Regions from separate parts of the Homo sapiens genome. Here all the other regions are reported to be linked to region 5. Evidence: microRNA targets listed by miRTarBase, many of them from high-throughput screens and not tested one by one. Region 5 holds a microRNA gene; each other region holds the end of a gene's coding sequence.

Region 1 (6,379 bases), not on the chromosome of region 5:
GTATTTTTAGTAGAAATGCGGTTTTACCATGTTGGCCGGGCTGGTCTCGAACTCGTGACCTCAAGTGATCCACCTGCTGCGGCCTCCCAAATTGCTGGGTTATAAGCGTGAGCCATTGTTCACAGGCTGAGTGACGTAGTTTAATGTTATTTATTTATTTATTTTTTAAGACGGAGTTTTGCTTTTGTTGTCCAGGCTGGAGTGCAATGGCGTGATCTCGGCTCACCGCAACCTCCACCTCCTGGGTTCAAGCGATTCTCCTGCCTCAGCCTCCTGAGCAGCTGGGATTACAGGCATGCGCCACCAGGCCCGGGTAATTTTGTATTTTCAGTAGAGACGGGGTTTCTCAACGTAGGTCAGGCTGGTCTCAGACTCCTGACCTCGGGTGATTCGCCTGCCTCAGCATCCCAAAGTGCTGAGATTACAGGCGTGAGCCACCGCGCCCAGCCTCGTGACTTTATTTTAAAATGCTACTCTGCCATGTGATTTTTTTCCTTTTTTAAGAGACGGGGTTTGTAATCTCAGCTACTTGGGAGGCTGAGGCAGGAGAATTGCTTGAACCCGGGAGGTGGAGGTTGCAGTGAGCCGAGACTGTGCCATTGCACTCCAGCCTGGGGGACACAGCAAGACTCCGTATCAAAAAAAAAAAAAAAAGAAAAAGAAAGAAACAGGGTTGGCTGGGCGTGGTGGCTCATGCCTATAATCCCAGCACTTTGGGAGGCAGAGGAGGGCAGATCACCTGAGGACAGGAGTTTGAGACCGGCCTGGCCAACATGGCGAAACCCTGTCTCTACTAAAAATACAAAAATTAGCTGGGCGTGGTGGGCGCCTGTAATCCCAGTTACTCAGGAGGCTGAGGCAGGAGAATCACTTGAACCCGGGAGGCGGAGGTTGCAGTGAGCCGAGATCGAGCCACCGGCAACAAGAGTGAGACTCTGTCTCAAAAAAAAAAAAAAAGAGACGGGGTTTCACTATGTTGCTCAGGCTGGTTTCAAACTCTTGGGCTCGAACGGTCTTCCTGCCTCAGCCTCCCAAAATGCTGGCATTATAGGCATGAGCCACTGCACCCAGCCTGCCGTGTGACTTCTGACTAACCCGAAACTGGGAATGCCTCCAACATGTCTAACGGATGTGTTACTCTTTATGTAGAAACACGTACTTACCAGCCTTTCCTCCAGAACAAGCCTTGATGTTGTCACATCCATCACAAGATGTATCGCCCATAGCCACCTACGCGTTTCTTCCAGAGCACAGATATGCTTTCCTCGAGATAGAAGCCCTGTGTCTGGGGGTTGCAGGGTGTGATCTATCTGTCTTGCTGCTGCCCAAGACCACACTTCTTTTTTTTTTTTTTCCAGACAGGGTCTTGCTTTGTAGCCCAGGCTGGAGTGCAGTGGCGTGAGCTCGGCTCACTGCAGTCTCCACCTCCCGGGTTCAAGTGATTCTCCTGCCTCAACCTCTCCAGTAGCTGGGATTACAGGCGCCCACCACCACACCTGGCTAATTTTTGTATTTTTAGTGGAGACAAGTTTCACCATGTCAGTCAGGCTGGTCTCGAACTCCTGACCCCAAGTGAGCCACCTGCCTCGGCCTCCCAAAGTGCTGGGATTCCAGGCATAAGCCACCATGCCTGGCGAAGACCACACTCTAAGTTTCCCCCTAATAAACCACCCTGTATTGACAAACTAGATGGGTCGGCCTCATTCTTTGGTTTCTTGGCTCCTTCGGCATTTGGGGACCGCTTTGCCTATATGAACCTTTCAAAGAACACCATTTAGGCCCGTTTTCCAGATTGGGTCACTGAAGCTCAACTCCCCTCATTTTCTGAGAGAGGCAAAGAGAGGCTGCAGCTGATGTTTGCTATGCTCATTGTTCAGGTGCAGCTGGGAGGGCATGACACACATATAGCTTCCCAGGACATTCCAGGATCTGGGAATATGTATTTTTGTTTTGTTTTGTTCTGAGACAGAGTCCCGCTTGGTCACCCAGGCTGATGTGCAGCGTTGCAATCACCGCTTCCCAGGCCCAAGCGATCCTTTCACCTCAGCCTCCCAAGTAGCTGGGACTACAGGCATGTGCCACCACACCCAGCTAATTTTTTTTTTTTTCTTGAGATGGAGTCTTGCTCTGTCACCCAGGCTGGAGTACAGTAGTGTGATCTTGGCTCACTGCAACCTCTGCCTCCCAGGTTCAAGTGATTCTTGTGCCTCAGCCTCCCTGAGTAGCTGGGATTACAGGTGTACACCACCACGCCCGGCTAATTTTGGTATTTTTTTGTAGAGACGGGGTTTCACGTTGCCCAGGCTGGGCTTGAATTCCTGCCCTCAAGTGATCCGCCCACATCAGCCTCCCAAAGTGCTGGGATTATAGTTGTGAGTGACTGCGCCTGGCCCTATTTATTTATTTTTTTACATAGAGATGGGGTCTCCCTATATTGCCCAGGTTGGCCTCAAACTCCTGGGCTCAAAGGATCCTTCCTCCTTGGCCTCCTGAAGCGTTGGGATTATAGGCATCAGCCACTGTGCCCGGCCTATTTATTTTTCTCGAGAAAGGGTCTTGCCCTGTCTCCCAGGCTGGAGTGCAGTGGCGTGGTCATGGCTCACTGTAGCCTTAACCTTCTGTGGCCAAGCGATTCTTCTGTCCTTAAGCCTCCTGAGTAGCTGGGACCACAGGTGCATGCCACAACACCCGGCTAATTTTTTTTTTTTTTTTTTTTTTTTTTTTAGAGATGAGGTCTTGCTATGTTGCTCAGGCTGGTCTTGAGCTCTGAGCTTGAGTCATCCTCCTGTCATCCTCTCCTGAAACCCCCCACCCTGCCCATCCCTGGCCTCCAAAGTGCTGAGCTTATAGGCATGAACCACTGTGCCTGGCCAGAATTTCATTTAAACAAATACTCCTGGCCGGGCGTGGTGGCTCAGGCCTGTAATCCCAACACTGTGGGAGGCCGAGGCGGGGGGATCACCTGAGGTCAGGAGTTCTCAAGACCAGCCTGACCAACATGGTGAAAGCCCCATCTCTACTAAAAATACAGAAAAATTAGCCGGGTGTGTGCTGGGCACCTGTAATCCCAGCTACTCAGGAGACTGAGGCAGGAGAATCGCTTGAACCCAGGAGGCAGAGGTTGCAGTAAACCGAGATCGCGTCATCGTACTCCAGCCTGGGAGACAGAGCAAGACTCTGTCTCCAAAAACAAAACAAAACAAAAACAAATATTCCCCGCTTGCTTTTTACCAGACCCCAACTTGGTCCAAGGAAAGCATCCCCATCCCAGGTGAGGATGAAATCACCACTGGTGGATGCCAGCTTGGTGGATCTGTCTGCAGCTGTCACTGACCTGTGCCTCACAGCCAGTGGGATATAAGGGAACATGAGGAGAGGGCTGAAAGGAGAGGGAACTCTGGGGACAGATTTTCTCCCACTTAACAATGCCCAGAACAGAATGCGGCCTCTTCCTTCACTGGCTGTTGGTGACATCTGGAGCAGCTGCAGCTACCTTGGGACCATGAGGGGGGGTCCAGCCCCCAAACCTATCCTTGGCACAGCTAGGGGATGCGAGAACCTGGTTCCCTGAAGTCATCCTGCCTTGGGACATCTTGGTTTTTATCATAATTCATTTTTATTTATTCTTTTTTCTATTAGAGACAGGGCCTCATTCTGTCACCCAGCCTGGAGTGCAGTGGAGTGATAGATCATGGCTCACTGCAGCCTCAAACTCCAGGGCTCAAGGGATCCTCCCACACCAGCCTCCTAAGCAGCTGAGACTACAGGCACACACTACCATGCCCAGCTAATTTTTTTTCTTTTTCTGAGACGGGGTCTCGCTATGTTGCCCAGGCTGGTCTCAAACTCCTAAGCTCAAGTGATCCTCTTGCCTCAGCCTTCTTTTTTTCAGACAGAGTCTCGCTCTGTCACCCAGGCTGGAGTGCAGTGGCATGATCTCGGCTCACTGCAACCTCTGCCTCCTGGGTTCAAGCAATTCTCCTGCCTCAGCCTCCTGAGTAGCTGGGACTACAGGTGCCTGCCACCACGCCCAGCTAATTTTTTTAGTATTTTTAGTAGAGAAAGGGTTTCACCGTGTTAGCCGGGATGGTCTCCATCTCCTGACCTCGTGATCTATCCGCCTCTGCCTTCTAAAGTGCTGGGACTACAGGTGGAGCCACCATACCTGGTACATTCTTTTTTTTTTTTTTGAGATGGAATCTTGCTCTGGTACTCCGGTTGGAGTGCAGTGGTGCAATCTTGGCTCGCTGCAACCTCCGCCTCCCAGGATCAAGCAATTCTCTTGCCTCAGCCTCCCGAGTAGCTGGGATTACAAGTGCCCACCACCACACCCGGCTCATCTTTGTATTTTTAGTAGAGATGGGGTTTTGCCATGTTGACCAGGCTGGTCTTGAACTCCTGGCCTCAAGTGATCCCCCCTATCTTGGCCTTTCGAAGTGTTGGGATTACAGGCGTGAGCCACAGCACCTGGCCAAATTCATCTTTTAAAAGTTGCTTAATCCCGGCCAGGTGCAGTGGCTCACTCCTGTAATCCCAGCACTTTGGGAGGCTAAGGTGGGCAGATCATGATGTCAGGAGTTCAAGACCAGCCTGGCCAATATGGTGAAACCCCCATCACTACTAAAACAATGCAAAAATTAGAAGGCCGGGCGTGGTGGCAGGCAGCTGTAATCCCAGCTACTCGGGAGGCGGAGGCAGGAGAATCGCTTGATCCCAAAAGGCAGAGGTTGCAGTGAGCTGAGATTACACCACTGCCCTCCAGCCTGGGTGACAGAGTAAGACTCCATCTCAAAAAAAAAAAAAAAAAAAATTGCTTAATCCCAGGTTTGGGTTTTCTGTCCTTGTGGCTGAAGGGACCCTGAGTGAAGGCTGCAGACTCATCAGGGGCAGATGGAAAAATACCAGGATTGAGCCTCTCAGAAGTGATGCTTGAATCCAGTCTTCAAAGATGAGGACTCCGGCAGGTGACGTGGCAATAGCGTTTTGGAGGGACCAGTCCAGATACACAGGCATGGAGCCATGCATTTGTTCCAGAAAGTGTATTTGGATGGAACCGGAACATGGAACAGGACACACAGCAGGATGCGGAGCAGTGTCAGATGAGGCCAGAAAGGTGGGTGGGACTGGTCTTCAGGGGCTCCAGATGAGGCTGAGGGGCTGGGCCTAGGTCCTGGAGTGGGGTCAGCTCTGGGACCCTTCTGGGGCTGTGTGGGGAAGGGGCTGGGGGCCAAGAGGTCCAGGAGGAGGCTGGCGATGAGATGGCTGGAAGCCAGGGGTTCAGGGAGGCCCAGGCTCCTGGTATCAGGGTTCACCGGCTATACTGAGGATCCCCTGCCCCTGGCACCCAGCTGTGGAGGGGACACTGTCTTTGAGGCATCACTGGTTCCACAAAAGGTAGGGGAAGGTCTTGAGGGACCACCCCATGCCCTCATTAATCAACCAGAAGCTTGGCCCGGAGCAGCAGCGGGGATTCCAGTAGCTGTGGGCATACAGGATGCTAGGGCGGCCACAACCCAGGCAGCTGAGGCCGAGCCACCTAGGAACGCAGGCTCAGAGCAGACCCTCTTGGGACAGACGGAGAAGGGGAGGGGGCGGGCTTCTCTAAGTTAAGCCGATCACTGAGCACCTCACTGGACACGAGAGAAGGCAAGCCCCTCGGAGGACAGAAGGGAAGAGCCACAGACTTGGAGGCTGTGAAAGTGGAGACAGGTGGACCTGGGGTGGCAGCAATGCGTGAAATGCCAGGCCGTGCCCCCGCCCCAGGAGCCCAACATGACACCAGCCCCCAGGGAAGCTGACTGTGCCACTTCATCCAGCGCCCATCAGTCGCCTTGGAGCATCAGGAATCCTGAGGGCTGGGGTCCCGGAGGATCACAGATGCTGGGGCACCTCAACCTCAGGGAGCCGCTCGAGAAGTTTCTTTTCTGAAGTGTCCACCTCCTTCTGGTCACCGGCTGGAGCTGGGACAGGTACATCGTCTGGAAATGGAGGGAGGGAATGGTGGCACAGGACATCCGAACCCCTCCTCCCCCAGGACCCCAGAGGCCCAGCCCCTCCTCCCTCACACCCAGGGGTCCAGCCCCCAGCCCCTCCTCCCTCACACCCAGGGGTCCAGCCCCCAGCCCCTCCTCACTCACACCCAGGGGTCCCAGCCCCTCCTCCCTCACACCCAGGGGTCCCAGCCCCCAGCCCCTCCTCCCTCAGACCCAGGAGTCCGGACCCCCAGTCCCTCTTCCCTCAGATCTGGGAGTCTGGGCCCCCAGTCCCTCTTCCCTCAGATCTGGGAGTCCAGGCCCAGCCCCTCCAACCTCAGACCCAGGGGTCCAGCCCTGCAGCCCCTCCTCCCTGGACTAGGGCCAGCACCTGTGTCTGGGTGGAA
Region 2 (6,181 bases), not on the chromosome of region 5:
AATTTCATTTCTTGTCACAACACCCTCTGTGTACTTTTACCAAGACACTATATTTAACTGTAATTATTGACTTGTTATTTCTTTGAAAGTAAAACATACCTTTAAAGTTGATATGTGCCTTCCTAGTATTTAGCTGTCATACACGATCGAGTAAATTAGGCCAAGTCCATAAATTCACCATGTTCTCCCTTTCCTCCATTTCACCATCAATGTAATCCTGTCTTTCCTGCTCCTTAAAACAAACACCCAGATTGTCTTACTACTAATCACTTCAGAGAAATAGAGATGCAACTAGGGGCAAGTTTGATAAAACAAATAATACAACACTGGGAACTTATAAACATTGAATACATGTTTACAGTGGTTATTCCTTCTTTTTTATGATGTAAGTGTAATACAAATTGTTTTTCTGAAAGCCTGAAAGTCAGTTTCATTCTTAGAAGGTTTGAAAGAAGCCTCTCCTGGATCTATTTATTCTGTTGTACGCTTAGTAGGGTCCTCAAGATAGAGCAACTTGTGTGAATTTGCAGGTCATTTAAATAGCCACTTGAACAGTGCTCCCAGATTTGTGTGGAAAATGTACATCCCAGGGGAGTTTTGTGTGTGCATTTATTACATCTCCCATGTATTGGGGGAAATTCTTCATTGGTCTTAGTGAAAGAAAGTAAATCTTCCATCCTCTTACTCCCTCCCAACTCACATCAGTTACTTCTTGATAGAAAAAATCCCATTTGTTTCTGTGAAATGGTTTGGCTGTGCCTCCACCCAAATCTCATCTTGAATTGTAACTCCCATATTTCCCATGTGTCATGGGAGGAACCTGGTGGGAGGTGATTGAAATGTGGGGGCAGGTCTTTTCTGTGCTGTTCCTGTGATAGTGAATGAGTCTCAGGAGATCTGATGGTTTTAAAAAGGGGCGTTTCCCTGCACAAATTCTCTTGTCCACCGCCATGTGAGATGCGCTTTTCACCTTCTGCCATGATTGTGAGGCCTCCCGAGCCATGTGGAACTGTAAGTCCAATAAACCTCTTTCTTTTGTAAATTGCCCAGTCTTGAGTATGTCTTTATCAGCAGCATGAAAATGGTAAATTAGTACCAGTAGAGTTGGGTGCAGCTGAAAAGATACCTGAAAATGTGGAAGTGACTTTGGAACTGGGTAGCAGGCAGAGGTTGGAAGAGTTTGGAGGGCTCAGAAGAAGACAGGAAAATGTGGGCAAGTTTGAAACTTCCTAGAGACTTGAATAGCTTTGCCCAAAATGCTGAGAGCAATATGGACAATAAAGTCCAGGTTGAGGTGATCTCAGATGGAGATGAGGAACTTGTTGGGAACTGGAGCAAAGGTGACTCTCGTTATGTTTTAGCAAAGAAACTGGTGGCATCTCTCCCCTGCCCTAGAGATCTGTGGAACTTTGAACTTGAGAGAGATGATTTAGGGTATCTGGTGGAAGAAATTTCTAAGCAGCAAAGCATTCAAGGTGACTTGGGTGCTATTAAAGACATTCAGTTTTATAAGGGAAGCAGAGCATAAAGGTTTGGAAAATTTGCAGCCTGACAATGTGATAGAAAAGAAAAACCCATTTTCTGAGGAGAAATTCAAGCCAGCTGCAGAAACTTGCATAAGTAACAGGGAACCAAATGTTAAATCACCAAGACAATGGGGGAAAATGTCTCCATGGCGTATCAGAGATCTTCACGGCAGCCTCTCCCATCACAGGCCCAGAGGCCTAGGAGAAAATGGTTTCGTGGGCCAGGTCCACGTGCTGTGTGCAGCCTAGGGACTTGGTGCCCTGCATCCCAACCACTCTAATCATGGCTTCAGAGGGTGCAAGCCCAAGCCTTGGCAGCTTCCACGTGATGTTGAGTCTGCGAGTGCACGGAAGTCAAGAATTGAGGTTTGGAAACCTCCGCCTATATTTCAGAAGATGTATGGAAACGTCTGGATGCCCCTGCAGACGTTTGCTGCAGGGGCGGGGTCCTCATGGAGAACCTCTGCTAGAGCAGTGCAGAAGGGAAATGTGGGGTGGGAGCCCCCACACAGAGTCCCTACTAGGGCACCGCCTAGTGGAGCTCTGAGAAGAGGGCCTCTGTCCTCCAGACCCCAGAATGGTAGCTCCACTGACAGCTTGCACCATGTGCCTGGAAATGCCACACTCAATGCCAGCCCATGAAGGCAGCCAGGAGGAGACTGTACCCGGCAACGCCACAGAGGGGGAGCTGCCCAAGACCATGGGAACTCACTTCTAGCATCAGTGTGACTCAGATGCAAAACATGGAGTCAAAGGGAGCATTAAGATTTGACTGCCTGCTGGACTTTGACATAGGGATTGTAGCCCCTTTGTTTTGGCCAATTTCTCCCATTTGGAATGGCTGTATTTACCCAATGCCTGTATCCCCATTGTATTTAGGAAGTAACTAACTTGCTTTTGATTTTATAGCTTCATGGGAGGAAGGGACTTACCTTGTCTCAGATGAGACATTGGACTGTGGACTTTTGAGTTAATGCTAAAATGAATTAAGATTTTGGGGACTGTCGGGAAGGCATGATTGATTGGTTTTGAAATGTGAGGACATGAGATTTGGGAGGGGCCAGGGATGGAACGATATGTTTTGGCTGTGTCCCCATTCAAATCTCATCTTGAATTCTGACTCCCACAATTCCTACGTGTCATGGGAAGAACAGGGTGGGAGGTGATTGAATTATGGGGGCAGGTCTTTCCTGCTCTGTTCTCTTGATAGTGAATGAGTCTCATGAGATCTGATGAATTTAAAAGGGGGAGTTTCCCTGCACAAGCTCCTCTTCCCTTGTCTGGCATCATGTGAGACATTGCCTTTTACCTTCTGCCATGATTGTGAGGCCTCTCCAGCCACATGGAAATTTAAGTCCAATAAACCTCTTTCTTTTGTAAATTGCCCAGTCTCGGGTAGTCTTTATTAGCAGCGTGAAAACGGACTAATACACTCTGGTTCTAGTGACATTTCTGAGGAAGGAATGAACTGTTCCTTTTCAGTCTGATTCCAGCTTCAGATCACCATTGCACCCTGACCTTATCCATGGTGCTTTTTGGTCTAAGTAAAGCATTTCTCTAATAATACATTCAGGTTAAGCAACTATTACATTTATTGTCCTAATTTAGCATTAAGGTCTTTTCACAAAATACACTGTGATTTTGATACTATATGCCACTCTTCATCGGATCTTTCTGATGGCCAAGAGTTTCCTTAACTCTTGAAAAGCACATAAGTAAGTCTAGAGCTGGAACACATGAACATGAATACCTGAGCACATTTTCCAATATTTCTACCCCGACTGCAATAGCAGGAATTAGCATATGCAAGAATACAGCTACACATTTGCTGAAATCTAGTTAATTGAGAAATAATTTACTAAGATAAAATGGTTTGAGAATGGCAAACTCTCAAGGAATGAAAGACACTGAGAGCTCTGGAACTATTTTTGTGTAAGAAAAATAAAATCCTTTAATAATGTTCAAAATGAGAATTCAAAATGTATATATATAAAATATATGCACCAATTAATCTTTGTGTTAATTAATAGAAGCTTCAAAGTACTATAAAATTTAGTAGAATAGGTAACTTTATTTTAAATAACTTTCTTAACCCTGCCCATTAAGATCACAGTAAACATACAATAATTTTTATTATGGAAATTAATCTTTACATACAAAATCAGCTACGTAATTTTACTTACAAAACAATAAAAACTGTTCTTTACTGTGGCAACAAAAGAAGCATTTTGACAAATGAAAAAAATTAATGCAAACAAATTAAAACAATGCTTTTCTTTTTACTTGCTTCACTGTCTCTTCTATTTATTTTCTATGATCATTTGACACAAACATGGATTACTTTGATATCTACTGAAACATAAATGATAAGGTTCTTAAAGGTTGAATTAAAAGTCTGGGTGTTCAATATTTTAGAAGCTGAATAAACAAAACGAAATTGGGGTTTGTGATTACAGAGGATTTATCATTTTTTCCCTTTGCCCATATGAAAATATATAATAGAAAATTACCCACGGGAAAACATTTTTAAATTTAATGTTGCGTTCCTATCAAGTTTAATAATAATGCCAAGTTGGCAATTTAATTAATTACTTTCACTAAGGATTAATACTTTGTCTAGAATGGAGTAGAGGTAGACTGATCTTTTCGTATTCAAATATTTTAAAATATAAAGTTTAAAATGTCATAAGGAATTATATAAAATAGTATTTTTAAATATTTGAAATTTAATTTATAATTATATTCAAAATAATTAAATCCCTTTTTGATAAATAGTAAGTAAGTTGTTGCTTGAAATTCATTTGGTTGAAATGATTACTCTAAGGAACTCTTTTAGTTATTTTTAACTAATAATCTTTAGAAAAAAATGTCTATTTTTTAATAAGGGTTTCTAGTTTTGGAAAAAAGCTTCTAATGATTTAAATGCACTTACAGATGCTCCTACCACTGGAAAAGGCATCCTATCTGTTTTTCACACTAGTATTTACAAAGTATTATGTGACAGAGCAGCTGTTGAACTAAAAAAATAAAATGTACAAATGCAAACTGGGTCAAAGAAAAATCTTTGTATAAAATGCTTAGTTATTCCAATGTTAAATATGACTTATGCTTACTGGTAATAAATTGCATGTGTTCTCTCTCTTGTTAGTAGCTTGTTTTAGAAGAGAACACAGCAATGCATGGGCCACTCTAGCGTTCTTGTGCACCTGTAAAGGCATCCTTGCAGCCCCAACCAAAATCAATGTTTATTCTGCCAAAAATAAGAGCAAGGGCTTAGTAATAATTTTTCTTTTTTGTAAATTTCTGTATTTTAGTTTTGAAGTGCTTTCTATTTAAAAATAAAAAACATGATTTATTTTCATTTCTGACACAGAAGTGTTTCTTTTAAAAAAAAAAGACCACATTTTAAATTTCTGCTTAAATGTATATAAAGTATACATTTAAGTATACTGGCACTCGCAACAAATGAATCCTTCCCCAGGGATAAATGGATTGGAAAATTTGTTTTTCATTCAACATTTGGAAAGAGAACAAACCTGAAATATGTAATTTTTAAAATTATGTGAAAATAATGTGAAAAATTTCATATAGTATTTGTGTGAAAATCAGGTGGAAAAAAACTTCCATGAAGAACCCAATTTACAAAAATTCACATCTTTTTAAGATTTACATTTAATACAATACTACTGTTTTAACTGAATTGTGTGTGTATGAGGTGGTTTTTGCAGGGAGAGGGGAGTTGTATAGTGACTACTTTTTTGTGACCACTCACCTTCAACCTTGGGGGAAAATGCTTACTATATGACAAATGTAAATTAAGATCATTACTCTTCCGTCACAGATGATTTCCTAGATTTGAGAACAAGGTCTTTAATGGATGAAGAAAGTTCTTGAAGCTCTTTACGAGTAGTACTGGCAACATCTTCTTGTTCTTTGTCTAATTCATTATTCAAGGGATAATCTCCCTGCCCAGTCTTCTTACTTTGACTGACTAGCTGCTTTACAACCAAACCTTGATACTTTACCAAAAGAGCATGCTGATCCTGTGAAAAGGGAAAGAAAAGTTAATCAACACAATTTATCTTTTTGTGGAACAGATAAAGTAGAATTTCTTCAACTAATACACATTGAAGGTCCTCATCTTTACAAAAAACTGGCCATGTAAGTAGCAAGTCTAATCTAGCAGTTTCTGCTCTCAAGGAGTGTACAATTTAGGAGAGATAAAACATGAATGCAAATCACTTTACCATAAGTTGACTTATGGTAAAGTCAACTTATCACCTGGTTCTATCACCAAAGATACAGTCAAAGGGATAGGGAAGTTCCCTTTTAGCTGAGGGGTTTTTTAGCTAAAAGGGATAGGACAAGACTTTTGAATGGGTCCTTGATGGATAAGTTAAACCTAAAGAAGCTGAAATGGGAGATTTGACATTATTGTATCTTTTCTGAAAGCTTAATTTCCAAATTCAGAACATTCTTGAAAGATTCTTGAGCTATGTGGAATTTTAAAAAATTAATCTCCTAATCCACTGTTCACATTATTGGAAATGGGCTTTGATGTTAATGTATTTTATACCTGAGTGCTGACAGTAATTCATCTCAATCCACTCAAAATATTCAGAATGTAAATCTTTGAAAGTTTCAAGTGTATTGAA
Region 3 (6,402 bases), not on the chromosome of region 5:
CTGTAAAATGTTGTTCAAGGCGCAGTCTCAAATCAGAGAAATAGCCCAAGTTTGTGGCTCATTACCTAAGAGAAGCATTGTCCTTATTTAGACAAGATTGGGCATGTTCAGAATGGTATGGCTGTAGATTACCTTGAAAATGTTAGGACTCCGAGCTCTAGGTAAAAAGCAGACTTTTCTGATCAAACCAGACCACTGAGATTAGTCCATGGAGTTTACATGGTACAGTTAGTGAATTTTCTGCAAAGTGAATTCCTCAGTAATTGTGTAGAGTATGCTGAGAACAGTGTATGTGTGTGCAACTGGACATGCCCAGCTGTGATCCTGGAGTCAGCCTAGGTCATGTTCTTTGCCTGCTGTAGACTAAATCAAACAAGGATGGTGGGAACCAGGAGGTCGAGATTGCCCGCTGCCATAAGGGGCAGTACTTTGGAGAGCTTGCCCTGGTCACCAACAAACCCAGAGCTGCCTCAGCTTATGCAGTTGGAGATGTCAAATGCTTAGGTAAGAAAAGTTCTTTATGCATTAATATTCTTTTTCTAACATGTAATATTTTTTTCCCATCAGCAAGCCTTGACATATTCTGCCATCTTTTACTGCTGTCTAGGCCTAGGCAGTTTATGTGACCAACCAGAGATGGATGAATGGATGCTTTCAGCAAACATTTCTGAGTACTGATGACAGCCTGTGAGCAAGACAGGCATGCAGGTTCTTTAGCCGTATGAAAAGAACTGATGTCCAGGGCTGTGGGAGAATGGGGAGAACAGGAGCTGCTGGACTCTGTAAAGTCTCTAACCTGGATGACAGTCTTCTGAATTCATATAGAAACATCCCTTTTTGCAAGTGGCTGGTGTCCCAAGGCGTAATCTCATACAACATGAATGGGTATGTTTAGGAAAAGGTTTGCATGAGGGAAATGGCTTGAATTCATTCTCTCCCTCACCTCTTTTTAACAATGCAGTTATGGATGTACAAGCATTCGAGAGGCTTCTGGGGCCCTGCATGGACATCATGAAGAGGAACATCTCACACTATGAGGAACAGCTGGTGAAGATGTTTGGCTCCAGCGTGGATCTGGGCAACCTCGGGCAGTAGGTGTGCCACACCCCAGAGCCTTCTTAGTGTGACACCAAAACCTTCTGGTCAGCCACAGAACACATACAGAAAACAGACATGACAGAACTGTTCCTGCCGTTGCCGCCACTGCTGCCATTGCTGTGGTTATGGGCATTTAGAAAACTTGAAAGTCAGCACTAAAGGATGGGCAGAGGTTCAACCCACACCTCCACTTTGCTTCTGAAGGCCCATTCATTAGACCACTTGTAAAGATTACTCCAACCCAGTTTTTATATCTTTGGTTCAAAACGGCATGTCTCTCCAACAATTTAAGTGCCTGATACAAAGTCCAAAGTATAAACATGCTCCTTTCCTCTCTTGCTGCTACTCTTGCTTTTGGAAGTTACCACAGGGTCTGCAGAAACCTGTTGTATAACTGTAGACACTCTCTAATGGTTCTCAAAGGAGGAAATGTAGCCTTCAGTCTCCTCATTTGTCCTTTGAGGAAGTCCACATTTGTTCACAGTTGCAGCCTTTGGTTTTACAGTGGGAAATGGTGGTGGATGATATGGACATATGTAGCCCAGTGGCATTGTACTTTCTGCTGACAGCTGCACACATTACAGCTGTCTCCAAACCCACAGTGATGCTTAGGGAAAGACCCTGCTCAGGACCCAGCAGGTCAGCACCCCAGAGCAGACTGATAGGTCCGTGGGACCCATGTTAGAGCAGAAAATTTGGGCTCAGCACATTTTACTGTTAGTAGAGAGCCAGGAAACGTTTTCTGGGTTGGGGATTTTGTGGGATTTTTTAATTTTTTTAGTAGGTTTTGTTTAACCTCTGTGCAGTTTGTATGAATGAATTGCTATACATTTATAAGGAGCCAGGGTCTGGAGGGTTGCTATCACTTTGTCCAGCCCAAATACCTTCCTGGGCAACTCCTACCATTTGTTTGCAGTTGCCTCTACTAGCTGATGGCAGTATGCTGGAAAGAGGTTGTACTATAAAGAGAGTTCTTTCCTTCTACTCCAGAGTTGTTGTGTAGCTTTGCCATTGAACCGATCAATTTTTAAACTCTTTAAAGAAGCAGCAGCTATTTTTTTGAAATTAAAGAAAATTCTCAGGCCAGGCTCAATGGCTCATGCCTATAATTGTAGTGCTTTGGGAGGCTGAGCTGGGAGGATCGCTTAAGACCAGCCTAGGCAACAGAGTGAGATCCTGTCTCTACAAAAACAAAAATTTTTTTTTTGTTTTCTTTTTGAGACGGAGTTTCGCTCTTGTTGCCCAGGCTGGAGTGCAATGGTGCGGTCTTGGCTCACCGCAACCTCCGCCTCCCAGATTAAAGTGATTCTCCTGCCTCAACCTCCTGAGTAGCTGGGATTACAGGCATGCGCCACCATGCCGGGCGAATTTTGTATTTTTAATAGAGACAGGGTTTCTCTGTGTTGGTCAGGCTGGTCTCAAACTCCCAACCTCAGGTGATCCGCCCACCTCAGCCTCTCAGAGTGCTGGGATTACAGATGTGAGCCACTGCACCTGGCAAAAAAAAAATTTTTTTTTAATTTGTCAGGTGTGGTGATGCATGCATGTAGTCCCAAATACTTAGGAGGCTGAGGTGGAAGGATCACTTGAGCCCAGGAGGTCAAGGCAACAGTGAGCTGTGATCATGCCACTGCACTCCAGTCTGGGTGACACAGTGAGACCCTGTCTCTTAAAAAAAAAAAAAGAAAGAAAAAAAATTATTCTTTAGGTAATTTCACTTGGACATATTCATGTATATGGAGTTTGTCAGCTGACTCAGGCATTTACCCTAAAGATCAAATCTGTTTTCAAAAATTGGCATTGGCCAGGCACGGTGACCCACACCTGTAATCCCAGCACTTTGGGAGGCCGAGGCGGGCGGATCACGAGGTCAGGGGTTCAAGACCAGCCTGGCCAACATAGTGAAACCCCGTCTCTACTAAAAATACAAAAAATTAGCTGGGCATGGTGGTGGGCGCCTGTAATCCCAGCTACTTGAGAGGCTCAGGCAGGAGAATCGCTTGAACCTGGGAGTGGAGGTTGCAGTGAGCCGAGATTGCACCATTGTATTCCACCCCGGGTGACAGTGCAAGACTCCATCTCAAAAAAAAAAAAAAAATTTGGCATCATTTACAATTTCATAGAATTACTGTGAAGGCCTTTCTAGTTGAGATGTTGGGGTATTTGGGATTCTAATTGTTAACCCCAGAAGAAGGTAATTTAGCTTGTATTTATTTAAAACCCATTTAGCCTTTTACTTATATCTGGTAGAATTCCAGTGATCATCCTAATAAGGTATATTTCAGAATAATTTTTTTTTCCTTCAGAATAACTTAGAATCAGATGCTATAAGGGCTCCTAGGAGCAGTGTGAAATTTCCGTAAAGATAAATTTGAATGTTGTAACCAAGTTTATATTAAACCAAGAGGCCATTTCCAATATGATTTTTTGTTTCTTTTTAACTTGTTAAGTCCCTAAGAGATTACATGCTAGGGCTTGAGTCATTTCTATTGTAGATAATGATGGCCCACACAGTCACCTTCAACTATCCACATAAGCTAGGCTTTCCGCTTTTGCCACGGACAGTGTGACCAAGATATTTCCAGAGTAAATAACCCACCACAACCTTGGTAATTCCTCTTTTCTTCTTAAGCTCCAGGAAGCGAAAGCAGAAGGACTCTTTTCAGACTGCCCTCTGTAGCCTACATTGCAGCTTTCCAAAACAGGCAGCTAGCACTGGGAAAGCCCATGTGGTGACCCCATATTTTTCTGAGGTTCTTCTTTTCCATGGTGTTACTTTATTATCAGAAAGTAAATTCAGAAAACAGGTCTTGCCCTTAGCAGACAAGAACCACACCAGTTTCTTGTAAAGGTAACGGATACATTGGGATTCAGGAGTGACACAGAGGTCCAGCCCCAGAACTTGTAAGGATTTTGTTTGAACACTGAGCAGATGCCTCCTCCCTGCCACCCATCACACTAGTTAGGGCTGGCCATGAATTCTATGCCAGAGTCACTCCTGCAGTCTGCTAGGGATGGGCCTTCTTATCCCACTCTCGCACACATCCCAGTCTAGTCTTTGCCTTCACAGAGTCCTCCTTGACACCCCTGACTTAATGATAGTTGCTGTTTTGGAGTAGAATTGATCAGGTTTAAGTCATCCTGCTCAGGTTGGGCATAGTGGCTCATGCCTGTAATCTCAGCACTTTGGGAAGCCAAAGTGGGAGGATTGCTTGAGCCCAGGAGTTCCAAACCATCCTGGGCAACAGAGGGAGACCCTGTCTCTACCAAGAAAAAAAAAAAAAAAAAAAGTTAAAAAAACAATTAGCTGGACCTGGTGGTGCACACTCAGTAGGCTGAGGTGAAAGGATTCCTTTAACCTGGGAGACTGAAGCTGCAGTGAGCCATGATCGTGCCACTGCACTCCAGTCTGGGGGACAAAGTGGGACCCTATCTCAAAAAAAAAAAAAAAAAGTCATCCTCCTCCAACTACTGATTGACATATGGATCATCAGTTCAGACCCTCACTGCATACAGGATCCCTAGAGGGTTCTATTTAATAGCTTGAGGAAGGGAGACTTTAAAAGGACGTGTGTGAGTGAAATAGGATATAGCCATTACCACGGTGCCAGGACCTGACAGCGTTCCAATTCTTTTTGCAGCATGGGGAATCAAAGGTGGCATGCCAAGTTCAACTCAGGGCTGAGGTATCCACATTGTCCACATCAGGCAAGCCCTGCACTGACGGTTGAGCCTCATGGAGAGGAGCATGTGTTGGAAAGAGATCCCTTTGTTAACTGTTTTGTGGTGTTCTCTTCAATGAATTAGAGCTCATGCCCCTTTTCTGGCTTTGCTGTTGATTTTGGATGGTAGAGAATATTCCTGAGAGCCTTCCTTTTGGCCCCCAGCTTATGCCACCCACTCTCTTCTCTTGGTTGAATTCTCTGAAGGAAAGGTTCATGTGCTATTGTCCTGTTAGTCAATAGTCTTCATATATAATTGTGTTACATATATTGCTGTAGACTCTCAGAAATCAGGGTAGAGCTTTTCCTTTGAGCAGTTTAATGAGTGAATTCAGCAGCAAAGTCGCAAGAAATGGTTCTCCAGCCAGGAGAGGTTATGTTTATCCTCTGATTGCCCGTTTTCTCTGCACACAGTGATATCGTATTCAGTGAGAGGTGCTGTTGGCACCCAGCAGCACCCTGGGCACACAGCATTTCATGTCATGTCACAGTGTACAAGCTACCCTCTAATTCAGAAAGAAGAGCATTTTGCACAGAGAAAAATAAAAAGATCCATGAATGTCATCTTTTATCTTTTATTTTCAGTTGGCTGATGTTGGAATTTTTGTTCTTGTCATGAACTTGTAAACCAATCTTGCCAAGATACAAGTTGTTTTGGTTTTTCACTACAATGACCTCTTGTTCCTCCTGTCTTGACTGCTGACGTTCCTCAATGATTCTATTGTCTATTTTATGGGAAGCAGCCTTCCCATAGGTTTCCTTTTACACACTGCAGGGCTATCTTTATACTTTAAAAAAAAAAAAAAAAAAAAAAAAAAGGACAAGAACTGTCACTAACCTCATGGAGGGGTTTGCGTAAAACCATTTAGCCCACCTTGAGCAAAGGGTAGATTCCGTGTTGTTTTTTTAAGCTCACTGTAATAAAATAAATCTAATTCAGCATTATTGTGCTACCTCAAAGGTAAAAAATGTTTTAAGGTCTTCTTTTGGTCCTGAGTTCTATATACAGTGTTTGAAATGTCCTTCATTTGGAATTATTTTTTAAATTCTTGGAGTGAATTTTATTTTAATCTGTTTTAATCTTGTATTTTAATCTCAGAAGAATAAGTGATTGAAACGTGATCAATTCTTGCTCTGTGGTGTTAAACATATAATGAACAGTCATTAAGAATTAAGTCACTGTTTGCCATAAACAAGGTTGATGTTCTTTTTGTTGTTGTTAAGGAAACCCTAGGGCTCGGCTTTACTCTTGATTAATAAAGGCTGACAAATCATGTCTGACTTTCTGGTGCAGTCTTATGTTACGTGTTTGCCATTTTGCTTCAGGGCTCCAGGCCGTCATAGCACTCCTTTGGCAGATTCATTCTTCTGGTAGATCTGGGATTAGGGTATGAGCCCTTGAAAATTAGGGACCCCTTGTACTAGTCAGGGTTCTCCAGAGAAGCAGTCAGTAGGGTGTGTGTGTATGTGTATAAAGATTCTTTTTTTTTTTTTTTTTTTTTTTTTAGTGACAGGATCTCACTATGTTGTCCAGGCTGGTTTCAAACTCCTAGGCTCAAGCAGTCTTCCTGCCTCAGCTTCC
Region 4 (6,402 bases), not on the chromosome of region 5:
TGAATCTGGGAGGTGGAGATTGCAGTGAGCTGAGATTGCACCACTGCATTCCAGCCTGGGCAACAGAGACTTCATCTCAAAAAAAAAAAAAAAAAGCAATGGTTGCAAATGTTCTGAGTTCAAGTCCCAGCTCCATCTCTTCCTGGCTATGTGATCTGAGCAAGATCTTGTCTCTCTGTACTTCAGTTTCCTTCTCTGTAAAATGGGGATGACTCCAGTTGCGGATGAGCCGCGTTCATGGGCAAGCAGTGTGTTCTACTGAGTCTGCGCCTACCTAGTAGGTGCTAATCGTACGTGAGGTTTTTGTTTTTGTTTTTTTGCTGATAAAGGAATGCAAGGAGGAGGCAACCACGTGTCCAAGGCTGTGTGTGGTTTTTCTTTTTTTAATGTCTGCTGTTAATAAAATATTTTTACAGAGACCAAAAAGTCAGAATAGTGCAAAACATCTCAACACCATGCATTCATGACCACTTCTCGTTTGTGTTAAACATTTGTTCCAAGTCACATATTTACAGAGAAATGAAGGCGTCTGTGCAGACACTGGACCGACGGGGTAGAATCAAAACAAAACAAAAAACAAACAACGTTTTGATTTCACATCTGCAATCACATGCTAAGAGTTGTGTGGAGGGGAAGCCTCCCCGGACTGCTTGGCCGGTTTGTGGGGGTCTGAGGGAGCACGAGACAGGGGTGGACAGGGGTCAAGTCCCCCTGGCTGTGTGGTTGGGGATGATCAGGGGACCCTCCGCCTGTGACCTGTGTCTCCAGAGAGCCACTATGGCTGGACGGGGGTAAGGGGTGGGGTGTTACTTGACACAGTCAACTTGATTTTTCTCTGAAACAATAAAAGGCAAAGAGAAAAGCAACACGTGTCAGCAAAGACAACTTTGGTCCTCAACGATTCTTAGGAAAGGATTCTGGGGAGCAGACGGGGTTGTGATCCGGGACTAAGGCCCTCCCCCAACTTCCCCAGGGTGGCAGAGTTCCGGGAGGCCCCAGGTTGTCCCCATCTGCAAAATCGACAGCACATGGGGTAGGGGTAGGGGACAGAAAGGCTCTGAGATCCCAGCCGAGAGAGGTCCCAAGGATTTCTAGTTGGGTGTTTAGTTTTTTGCATCTCTGATGGGGGCATGGTGAGGTCTCAGGCTCTGGGGCCTGAGAGAGGAATTGGGGGTGTGGACAGGCACCTCCTCATTTTATGCAAATCATTCGAGGACAGACTGGTAAGAGTGAACAGATCCTTCTTTCTTCAGGACACCCTCTTTACTTCCCCCGACACTCCCTGCCTTGGTCTCTGCATTTATCTTTCTCTGTATATTTCCACCTCTATGTCTCTCTCCATCTCTGTCTCTCTCCGTCCTCATCGGGGCGTGATCTCACCCTCTGTCTCTGTGTTTTCTACTCTATTCCTCTTGGTCAGGGGACTTTGACTCTGAGGCATCCCTCAATGTCACCCCTTTAACCCTTGCCCTGCCACAGGCCAACCTTCTTGTGCTGTTTCCCCGATTCATGGAAATGTGGGGCCAGCTCCTTGCATAAAGCGAGGTCCAGGGTTCAGAACCCTGGAGGTGTCATCCAAGGCCGGGCTCTGTGTCCACTTGCTGGGTGGCGTTGAGGAAAGCCCTGCTCCTCTCTGGGCTTTGTTCTGCCAATACAGGAACTTCCTGATTTCAAAAGGCTTTCAGCCCCCTGGACTCCTTGTCTTTTCTCTGTCCGTGTCTCAGCCATGTCCACTCTCTGTCCCATGTGTCAGGCTCAGACACCTCCTATGTGCCCAGGTCCGTGTGGAAGGGGAAGGTTGGTACGGACAGACATGGACAGACATGCATGCGGATGTGTATTCTCACACTGACCCTGCCCCAATACATAATTCCACTAGGCGTAGACTCCCTGTCACCCACTTGTGCCCAGCCTGTGCTAGGTAAAGTTGGGGGTCCTGAGAGTCCTCAGACCCCAGTCTGGGAGAAACAGAGCTGGACAGAGAAACCCCCAGTCCCATGGCATCAGGCTGGACTGGAGGAGAGACGGTGGCTGGGAAAGTCCTGAGGGGAAGGAAGGAGGGTTTTCTCCAAGAGGGGTTTCCGTGATGGGTTTTGAAGGACGAATAGGAGTTCTCTGGGGGAAAGAAAAGAGGGTGGAAATTGCAAAAACAGTTCTAGCCTGGGAGTCAGGAAAACTCATTCAACAAATATTCCCTGAAGAAGCTTGTTTCCTTCACATGCCTGGGCCATTGCTGGGGAACCCTAAACACACACACACACACACGGAGGTCTTGAACAGAAAGACTCCTAAGGAATCTTTTGGGAAATAACTTGGCTCTCTCAGGCAGCTCGACTTCCCCATTTCTTTCCAGCCATCCAAAAATCTTCCAGATCACCCTCACCCCAGGTCACAGATCACTTCCCCTTTGGGCTCTATGGGTTACAACCCTGAATCATCCATCCACCCGACCCCTACCCTCAGCCATGTCATGGTTCGAAATTCACATCTGCTCCTCAGTCCATATAACAGTCACATAAGCTTATCCCTGGCTACAACTTCCCAACCCTGTATGAGAATTTGCATTTTAACCTTTGGTTCAGAACCTCCAGTTACCTGCACCTGTCTGAATTTAAGGGACATGCAACATCTCCAAGCAAATTAGAAAGTGGCGCCACTTCTTCCAGACACTTGGGCCATTCACATGTCGGGAAACCAACGTCACAAACATACAACACTCAATATCTAGGATTTGCACGTGGCCTTCTTAGCAATGCCAAACCCTTGGGCACTGTGCAACTGGGACAACTGTACTCAGCAGCCCTAGAGCTCATCTAAGGGCAGGATTTTTTTTTTTTTTTGGTGGGGTAGAGGGGAGGGAATGGAGTATTGTTCTGTTGCCCAGGCTGGAGTGCAGTTGTGTGATCACGACTCACTACAACCTCTGCCTCCAGGGTTCAAACAATTCTCCCGCCTCAGTCTCCTGAGTAGCTGGGACTACAGGCATGCACCACTGCACCCAGCTAATTTTTGTATTTTTAGCAGAGATGGGGTTTCGCCATGTTGGCCAGGCTGGTCTCAAACTCCTGACCTTAAGTGATCTGCCAGCCTCGGTCTCCCCAAATGCTGGGATTATAGTCATGTCCCCACAGCTATAGGTGTCTTTTCAACACAGCCTTCAGAATCTTTCCAAGAATCCATTTCAGTGTCCCCAAAGCACCTCCACCTCTCCTCACTGGTTTTAGTCTTCACAAAACAGCTTTTGCAGGCTGGAATCCAGTCTCTCCCCAACTTAAAACAGCTCCTGGAGCTCCCCAACTGTCTTAGAATAAAAGTAAAACTCCTCAGGACTGCGTACGAGGCCCTGCCTGGTCTGATGCTTCTGCAGATCTCCCCAACCCCAAGGCTCCTCACGATCCCCCTTGCTGGCTCAGCTCCAGCCGTGCCACCCTTCTCGTTGTTTCAACAGTTCTTCTCTCCTGGCCTTCGCACGTGCTGTTCCCCAGGCCTGGAGCTCTTTTCTCTCTAGTAAGTGGTTCCCTCTCATTCTTCACCTCGGAAAGCCTCCCCATCTGATGTTCTATCCTCCAGAAACCCAGCTACTCAGCTCACCCCGTTTTCATTTCTCCCTAGCACAGCAAAATCTTGTCCTTCCCAATCCAGCAGAAAAAGGCGTGCCATACACACATGTGGAAAAGCAGATCCCAGAGCAAGTGTAGTCCACGCTGAACTTTCCCCTAAGGTCCTATGTGCACCAGGTAACTCCAGCCAGGTCACTGTAACTTTGCTCATTGGAGAAAGAGCTTCCAGCTGGCAAGAGGGCCATCTGAGGTATCCTGTGGCTTGGGTGTTTGAATCAATGAATAGGCTCTTGGAGACTAAGCTCTCACTGTGTCACTGTGTTTGTGTTTCTCTCTCTCTCATTCTCTTTCTCTCATTCTCTTTCTCCCCCCTAGAGTTTCTGGTCTCCTTCTGTTCTTTCCTATTTGGAAAATTCTGGAAAAGGAAGAAGGGATGGAGAAACCTGGGACCAGGGGATCCCAAATTCTCTTTTGTGGTGGGAGGCCCTCATGGCATCCCCCATGGAGATCCCAGGAGAAAGGGCTGAGGGCAAAGGTCCTGCTTGGCAGCCGGAGAAGGAAAGGCGAAGTAGGGGTCTTGGCCTGGAATTCCCACCCCTTGGAGGAGGCCGAGGGGGAATTAGCAGCAATAGGGAGCTGTGTCAGGTCATCCCGATCTCAGCCCACCCTTCCATGGGGCACACAGGCCTAAGGGAGGGGCACAGAGGGTATGGCACCTGGAACCTTGGCCAAGTCTCAAGCAGCTCTTTAAGCCTCAGTTTTGCCATCTGTCAAATGGGTGTGTTGAACTCTATGATATGAGGACTGGGTTTGTTGGGGGAGAGGGAGAGGCAAACTCCCAAAGGGAAGTAGGGGCAGCGTGGGGAACCAGAGCCGTCCCCTCGGCCCCCAGGGTTTGGGCGCCCAAGGGCGCATGTGCTTTTGAAATCCCATCCTCCCCCCTCCCCCCATTTATTTTTTGCACAAATATCTAAAGGGACTCCGGTATTCCGGGGCCCTCCAACCAGCATCCTGGTCCCTCCAGTCCCCAGGCCACCTAGAGGGGCGCTCCAGAGAGCCCTACCCCTTGCCCAGGGCCCCCCCTCGAGGGAGCTGAGATTTCCATACTTGGCAATTGGTCTGGGGTCCCAGGGGTCTGGGTCCCATCTTATGGCTTTTCCAGGGGACATGAGGTGGTGCCTCCCGGTACCAGAGCCCCGGGATGTGGCCTCCTCCATAGGGACGAGGTTTCCCCCATCCCAGCTCAAAATGCCCCCTAGGTGCTGGGGGCGTGGCCTCAAGTTGGGGATGTGGCTCCTTCCTTCGTCGCGCCCTTGGGCGTGGCCTCCCGAGAGGGCGGGGCATCCTCCATTCCTAATTCCCCAAAAGGGAAAGCTGAGTCAAGGGCGTAGGCGCAGCCCACCCTTGGCGTGGAGCCCCCCGAGCCCCGCCCCTGGGGAGGTCCCACCAAGGCGCAAGCCCCGTCCCTCCCCGCCCAGCGCCCTCCGCGCAGGCGCAGTGCCGCTCGGCCGACCGCCCGCGCTAAGGCGCAGGCGCGGCACCGCCCTCCTCGGCGGAGCGCGTGTCCGACTTGAGCTTCACGAACTCCTTGGCCACCTCGTCGTTGCTGCGCTGCGAGAGGATTCGCAGCACCGTGAGGCCCGTGTCGTCCATGTGGATGCGGCGGCCGAGCGGCAGCCAGCAGGCGGCGCTCCCGCGCTGGGCCAGCTCACGCAGCTGCAGCACGGCCAGCCCCACCGTGCGGTCCTCGCGCGCGAAGCAGTAGTCCTTGACGCACACCTGCAGCTCATAGCACTCGGGACCCGCGTCGGCGCTCAGCGTGCTGCGTGGGGAGGGGCGGAACGTGAGACAGGCCACACCTACTGTGATGCCCCGCCCACGGCCCCGTCCCCACCGCATTTGCGGGCCACGCCCACACCGGGGTGCCCACACCTGTCACCTCCCACGCTACGCTAGCCCCGCCCCTGCCCCGTTACTTGACCTACAACCCTGTGCTTGGCCGCGCCCACAGCAGCTGACCCCGAGCTGGGCCACGCCCACGCCTGTTCTTCCCATTTTTCCACCCACCGAAAAATGACCGCATAGTTTTACATCCAGCTCCCGCCCCTCAGACACCGCCCTGCAAGGCCATGCTCCCACCCTGAGATACCCGCGCCTGTGCCCTCTGCCGGCTGAACTGCTGCCCGCACGGCCCTGCCCCTAATGTCCCACCCAGAAGCTCTTTAACCAGGCTCTCCTCTAGACCCACGACGTGGCCCTTTCCCCAGCCCCCCACACCCCCAGCCCACCCCTCTTACTTCCAAGATGCCCTCCAGACATGAGCCTGCCCTGGTGCCTCACCATGGGTGACACCGCCTCCCGCATGCCCCTCACCTGTGCTCCTGCCCCTAAGCAGTCCCAGTGACCTGCCCTGACGCCAGCTGGATAAGAGCCCCTCCTACAGGGTCACGCCCAGCTTCTCCCTCTTGTCCACCTCCCAGGTTGTACCTCTATCCCTGAAGTACTCCGGCCCACCCTGGCTGACATCTGACCTCCCACTAGACCATGCTTCTCCTCCTGAGTATCCCCTAAAGGGGCCAATCGCCCCAAAACCTTCTGACCAAGAGCCCTGTGCTGACACGACATGGAACTGGCTTCAATCTTGTCCCATAAGAGCTCCCAGGCCCCCTAGATAATACCAGCTAACCAGCTCTGATTTACCCTTACCCCTGTGCATTTTTATTTATTTTTATTTATTTTTATTTTTTGAGTGGGCATCTCCCTCTGTCACCCAGGCTGGAGTGCAGTGGCACAATCGCGGCTCACTGCAACCTCTGTCTCCCGGGTTCAAACGATTCTTCTG
Region 5 (6,402 bases):
GTTAGAACTTTTTTCAGGCTTAATCTGTCTACTTCATGAAAAAGATTACCAAGAAGAGTTTCCTATTTTTGCCTAGACCTGATTTCCATCTTAAAAGATCAGTTCCAGCTTCATCTTCACCTAAATGGTCACTTATGCCACTGATTTCCGGGCTTCTTGTGATTCTGGATGCTAGAGTATCAAATAATATGGGTGAAAGGACTTTGAACTGAAAAGCACTTGTATGAATGAAAGCTTATCACTTAGTATGATTTGAAAGTCTGTTATTTGGAACACTGATTTAGTAAATTGTTATTTAGACCAAGTGTATGAATCTTTGAAGTGTAACTTTGAACCTTAATATTAGTACATACGATTATTCTCAGAGTGGGGGTAGATTTTAAAGTTCTAAGTTTTTTGGGAACCTTAAAGGTTGCTACAGAAAACCATTCTACTAATTGGAGAAAACTTTCCTAAATTTTGGAAGAAGAAAAATAATGACCAAGCACATAAACTTTGCTTGTTTGCATCATAGGATCAGAGTTTAAAAGAGATCCTGATCATTTAGTATGAAACTGAAAAATGTAGTTGATATTTAATGAATTCTTTCATTGTGTGTATGGTTGATAGTTTGTTCCTACACATTGGGGTTTGGTGTGTGTGTGAGAGAGAGCAAGAGAGAGAAACAGATTGATTTTACATTTTTCATTGGATTTACTTTTTTACAAAGCATGGTTAGAAGTTATTAATACTTTGATCTCCAGGTTGAGATTTTGGAGATGATTTTTTATTTAATGGAAATATGTAATGAGTGAGCTCTTTTGTCTACGAGCCACTCATTTTTTATCCCATTGCTTTATCGAACGAGGGCTGAAAATTTCAATTTTGAATAGCACATGGCAATTTTCCTCTTAGAGCCAGCTAGCTATTCAGTTAACTGTTCTCCCACCTCAGGATGGTATTAACAAGAACAGGACAGTATACTAAGGCACTAGTTCCCAAACATTACTGGAATCATCTGGGGGTCTTTAAAAATACTGTTTTCTGACTCCTGTCCCTGGATAATTCAGATGTAATTGCTATGGGACGATACCTGGGCATTGAGATTTTTAAAATCTCCCCCAGGTGATTGTAAGGTACAGCAAACCTTGGGAATAGTTGTACTAACTGAAGATTGAGGCACTGGAATAACTAATGTTGGGTAAGATAGGGTAAGAACTTTTTCGCAATAAGGTTTGCAGCTCTTGGGATTCTCACTTGATAATGCTGTTTGGATAAACCATCATCCAAGTTTGAATAAGATCTTATATTTAGAAATGAAAACTGATCTGCAGAATTAGTTTAATCAATAAATGGGAATTTTTAAAAATCTTCTTGGCAATTTGTTTTTATGAATCCCGTTGAAGCTGTGTCTATTGACTACCTAAATCTAGATCATTCTTAATCCAGTGTGTAAAAAACCAGGATGACACAAATGAAAAACTTCAAAAACCTGGAGGTCAGACTATTTTAGTAATTTAGAAAACATTTTTCCCACACATTAATCAGTACTAAAAGAAAAAAGTTAAAACCTATTTAAAATGTGGAAAAATTGCTTCCCAATATTTTAACAGAGAGAGACTGAGAACACACAGCATTGAGTCATCAGGAAAACTGAAGATCTCCCCTGAACAACACTGGGATTTCACTGCAGAGGACTTGAAAGACCTTGGAGAAATTGGACGAGGAGCTTATGGTTCTGTCAACAAAATGGTCCACAAACCAAGTGGGCAAATAATGGCAGTTAAAGTAGGTGATGCCATGATTATTTTTGGTACTTTAATCCATTAGGTGAAATTTCATGGTGCAGTAATACCACTGTTGTTGTGTTCCTACTTTTGTGGTAAATGTGGGTGTTTAAAAAATTGTTTCTCCAACTCCTTTGAGGGTGTTCTGTGTAGAGGTTTCTTATTGGTGGCACATTTTCTATCTCTTTGGAAACATGAGTGTATGAAGTGTGCATGTTGATTGCATTTTTGGCATGATGCATTAACATGTTTTAAACTTCAGGCCCTTCTACTGCCAAGGTGAGTTCAGGCTGGGCGGCTGCACCCCTGGGAGCAGGGCAGTGCTGCACTGAGCCAGGCGGGAGCTGGAAGAAGACGCAGCACACTGGGTTGGGCAAGGTGCGGGGCTAGGGCTAACAGCAGTCTTACTGAAGGTTTCCTGGAAACCACGCACATGCTGTTGCCACTAACCTCAACCTTACTCGGTCCTGACCGGCTCGGCTTCTGTTTGTTTATTTCATCTCTACTCAGTACTGCCCTGTTCCCTGGTTTTAAAGTTGTACTGAAATGCATACCTTGTGATAATGTTGTCACATTTTGTCCTTATTGTGTCGTGCCACTTAATATGTTCATTAAAAAAAAAAAATGGCCAGAAACAGAGATTTGATCCATAGACAATACCTGGCAAGCTTATGCTGGTACCTGTAAAGAACTGGTGGTTTCCATCTGACTCCTAGTTTCATGTAATTGTAATTTATTCATTTGTTTGTTTAGATGTTTAACAAATCTTTGCTGTATGTAAGATATTTCAGGAAAATCAGCAACAGGGGGAACAACTTGCAAAAACAAAGGAAAAAAAGCTAGCTGTGGCCATACCCTCTCTGAGCTTAAAATTCCTATGGGAACAAAAATGTTTCAGTTTACAAGAATTCAGAATGGATTTGCATATAGTCCAAGCTAATCATCTTCCTATTAGTGTCCTATTTTGAGAGTTTGTCAGAGTGGTTGATAAGAGTCCTTAGTTTTTTCTTGACATTTGAGAATGAATTTAAATTAAAATAAAATGCTTTCTGTGTAGAAGTCTGTTGTGAGCCAAACCTTACTGTAACTATTTTAGTATCCTTCACTGTTGAGCATTTCTTTTTGCTGGGTCATATGAAAGTAATGTTAAATTAGTGGTAGGGAAAATTTTTATGATTCTCTCTATGGGTTCCTAACATTGTTTTTGGCTGTATTTTTAAAATGTGGTGAGAACTATAGACTTTTCATAGGCAGGTGTATATACACAACATTTTGTATACAAACCGTAGACCTCTAAAGATGCACAGGTGAAGAACTCTGCATTATGTGTTAAAATAAAATGTTTTATTGGAATGTGAAATGATTTCTGTATTCCTATTTTGTGCCACTGCAGTGTAAGTGGAAAGAGTCATTTTATTTAGACTCCTGGATGAATGTTGTGTTGTCCCTTTGTGCTACCTGTGTGTGACATCCAGTTTTAGTTGGCTGGATCTTAAGGGAAAGGTTTCCTATATAGTTAAAGTTGTAAACTTTTCTTTCAGGTACTAGGGAAAGTAATTTTAAAAAATTATTTCCTGCTTTTTACAGTTTGTGTTATGTGTGCTTCAACTTTGTTGATGAACATTATTAAACATTTTAGTAATATGGATTGATTTTAGCCATTGTTAAAAAGGTCATAAAGGTAAAGAGGGTACTTCCTTTTGACACTTAAAAGTTTTTCTCACTGATTAATTTGATAATATTTTGGGTTGTATAATGCTTACTCAAGTTTTGTAGGAATTCAAGAATGAAAATAGGAAATTGTTGTCCATCATTTGTAATGTTACATTATCAGTGGCTACTGGCTACTGTGACAGTTCCAGTTGGGATGCTATTAAAAATCCCAGCTGTACTTGAAGAACTTTCAAGGCAGTCATGAGACCTACAAACTGGTTGCTGTCACATGTATACCCACCACATGGTACTACCTAGCTTCGTTTACCATCTCGAATTCTTGAACAAGCATAGCAGTTGGGGATGGGAGAGGATGGCAGTACAACACATCAATTAACATATAGTTGAGGAGTACCTTTGGATTCCATGACTTCATTAATACTGGAAGAATAAGTGTTTTTGCATTAATATGCATTAAAATTTGATACCAATTGATGACAGATGTATGCCATCTCTGAATTAAAGAATGCATTTATTATTGGTTTCTTCAAAGAAGAATAGTCTTTCATCACACTTGAGAGAGTTCATTCATTCCTCATTTAGGTACATTGACTGGATTGACAGGCACAAATATACAGAATCAATGTATGATTAAGGAGGTGTTTGATTTGAGACTTTACGGTTTTAAAGGAACCATGAGACGGTGGTTCACACAGCTGAGAGCTTTCCATTGCTGTTGGTGAAATGAGAAACACGCTTGAAGTAACTCTGTGCTAACATCTTAATACACACTTTGAGAATAAAGAAGGATTGCATTATTAGATGTTAAGCTGGAAATGATCCTTAAGATTTACTTGCAATATCTGTAGAAAAGTGAACTGTGATATTAGCTTGATTTTTTTCTTTGTATTATTCCTCATTTTTAGTTCTGAGGAATTCCTTCCCCAAATTTATTTTGCCATATATAAGAAATATTTGAAAAAGGTGACTTCTTAGTAACCAGAGTTAATTACCCCAAAGACTTAATCTAAAAATCAGTTTTGATATAATCAGATTTAGTGAGGTAACATTGTAAGAGTTATACTTAAAACAATTTTTTGATGTTTGGTTTGAGGACAGTCTCCCAAGCTATCGGTGAGTTTCTGCATTAGGACCTAAGATGTGAACATGGTTTACCCTTTAGTTTTAATTGCACGTGCTTGGGAAAAGGGTCTTGCTCTCCTGTGAGTGGGAGTAATTTGTATACTTGTGCCTGAATGACTAGTCTTAGGGCTGCCTAGGGCAAAGCCAGTGTTGCCTCTGGGGTTTCTTAAAGCTCAGGGAGAACAACCTTCAACTCTTACCAGGGATTTACTTCTAACTGTGATCAGTATCCTTTACAAATAACATTTATTTAGTGTCCTGTTTTGCACGGTGGTGGGGTAACCACTGAATGAAAACATTAGACATGAACAGTCACTGTCCTCTACATAAAGTAGGTGCCTGCTCAGCTCTCTGGCAGGTGGAAATGGGAGAGGATGGCAATACAACACATCAATTAACATATAGATGAGGAGTACCTCATCTATATGTTAACCAGCTCTCTGGTTAAATGTAGCGGGGTAAAGCCCAGAGTTCAGACCAAATGTTTGAAGAGGCAGTTAGGATTAGGTTTCTGAGCTAGGGTAATTCAGATCTGGGAGAAACACCTAGCATCATCAGTCAGAATCAGGATGCCACAGAAAATCTAGGGACACAGGAGAAAAGAGAGTAAATGAAATGTCACAGCTTAGACCATGGGCTTACAAGCTCAGATGGCTGACAGAGGGAAGAATGACTGTAAGCCTCTGATGCCTGACAGTATATTCTCCACCTGACTCTGCCTGCAGTGTAAAAAATCCTGCATGCCTAGAGTACCAGCTTCCCTGTTGTTTTCTAGCAGACTCATGTCCAGATTGACTTCTTGAAGGTATGCATGCCCTTTTCATGTTTGTAGAATATGTGCGAAAAACCAAAGAAACGTGAAAAAGTAAGAATGAAAATGAGAGGGAGTATAAGGACTGAAGTACCTGTCACTAAAGATGATGGCAGGCAGTGGAATCTGAATTGTTGTGTGAAGGGTTAATACTGTAATAAAGCTGTCATCTCATTGAAGAACTGAATAATATTGAGCAGGTAGGTGGGAATAAGAATGTGTCATGTTAAATTTGTCATTGTGGATCATTATGATGACTTTTCAGTCTTCTGCTTGAGAAATTATCTGGGTTAATCAGGAAAAACAGATCTGTTGTTTGAGGGTAGGTGCATAGGCCGGACTGAGTTAGCAATGTGACCTGGTATGCAAGAGTTTCAAGTATTTTCTTTCTGTTGGAGATCTGCCTAACTTGTCTTGTTCTTTTGAACCTCAGCTCTACCCTTTCACCTCTACTGTTTCATTGATGTGAGTCTTGCTGATTCTGGCCTGTTAACCTGATTTTGATTCCTGCAATCCTGCCTCTCCTTGATTATTTGGATTTTGACTTTAGTGTCCTTGACCTGGAGTTGAGACCCAGCCTAATCCTGATGCTTGATAGTAAGGACTAGAGCCCTCTGCTGACAGTATCAGCAGCCCACAGCTCAGCTGTTCCCTGAGTAGAACGGAACTTTAATCTGCTGGTTGAGTAGGCCTCCCTGGTGTAGATAGTATGGTGAGTATGGGAAGTCAGGTATCAGAAAAGTATGGCTTGGCTTGTTTTCCTGCCACTGGAGAGACCATGCCACTTCTGTCAAAAGTTCCATTACCAAATTATTTCAGTGGGGATTATGATGATGAATAATGATTTGAGGAGGTTCATTTTAGTGTTTAAACATTGGTCTTGCATGTTCTGAAAGCACTAGAATGATACTGGGATGGCCTTCAATTGGAAAAGTTCCTTTTTGATGGCATAGAGTGCTTTGTTAGGCCATTTTATTCACTTCCAAAGGGCCGCAGTGATCATATTTGATTATCCAAATCACCTATGGG

Evidence for each region. The annotated mature microRNA hsa-miR-744-3p reads CUGUUGCCACUAACCUCAACCU and lies in region 5 at 2,203-2,224, shown strand. An mRNA with a match to its seed (bases 2 to 7 or 8) in the 3' UTR can be bound and repressed. Matches are read on the target gene's strand: a 7mer-m8 pairs with bases 2 to 8, a 7mer-A1 pairs with bases 2 to 7 and ends in A, and an 8mer does both.
Region 1: the mRNA of NUCB1 is a reported target of hsa-miR-744-3p. The part of its 3' UTR that is shown has no 7-base or 8-base seed match.
Region 2: miRTarBase lists UFL1 as a target of hsa-miR-744-3p. Seed matches in the 3' UTR shown: 7mer-A1 at 4,310-4,316.
Region 3: the mRNA of PRKAR2A is a reported target of hsa-miR-744-3p. Seed matches in the 3' UTR shown: 7mer-m8 at 2,258-2,264, 7mer-m8 at 2,703-2,709 and 7mer-m8 at 4,339-4,345.
Region 4: miRTarBase lists UNC13A as a target of hsa-miR-744-3p. Seed matches in the 3' UTR shown: 7mer-m8 at 2,875-2,881.

The regions. Positions count from the first base shown.
Region 1 is chr19:48,921,917-48,928,295 of GRCh38, reverse strand. NUCB1 (nucleobindin 1) reads right to left here. Exons shown (of 13, transcript NM_006184.6): 12 at 6,364-6,379; 13 at 4,924-5,978. The coding sequence ends at 5,872. Among named protein-coding and RNA genes, the nearest start is that of NUCB1-AS1, 6.2 kb to the right of the region's middle. RefSeq lists a silencer at 1,090-1,384 and an enhancer at 5,061-5,560.
Region 2 is chr6:96,552,673-96,558,853 of GRCh38, reverse strand. UFL1 (UFM1 specific ligase 1) reads right to left here. Exons shown (of 19, transcript NM_015323.5): 19 at 3,578-5,569. The coding sequence ends at 5,351. Among named protein-coding and RNA genes, the nearest start is that of FHL5, 7.4 kb to the left of the region's middle.
Region 3 is chr3:48,746,278-48,752,679 of GRCh38, reverse strand. It overlaps PRKAR2A (protein kinase cAMP-dependent type II regulatory subunit alpha), which reads left to right. Exons shown (of 11, transcript NM_004157.4): 10 at 363-504; 11 at 962-6,094. The coding sequence ends at 1,095. Among named protein-coding and RNA genes, the nearest start is that of IP6K2, 32 kb to the right of the region's middle.
Region 4 is chr19:17,600,973-17,607,374 of GRCh38, forward strand. UNC13A (unc-13 homolog A) reads right to left here. Exons shown (of 44, transcript NM_001080421.3): 44 at 364-5,382. The coding sequence ends at 5,082. Among named protein-coding and RNA genes, the nearest start is that of COLGALT1, 49 kb to the left of the region's middle. RefSeq lists enhancers at 3,945-4,849, 4,850-5,754 and silencers at 4,839-5,098, 5,469-5,688.
Region 5 is chr17:12,079,764-12,086,165 of GRCh38, forward strand. It overlaps MIR744 (microRNA 744), which reads left to right and starts at 2,136; the gene lies at 2,136-2,233. MAP2K4 (mitogen-activated protein kinase kinase 4) reads left to right here. Exons shown (of 11, transcript NM_003010.4): 3 at 1,593-1,767.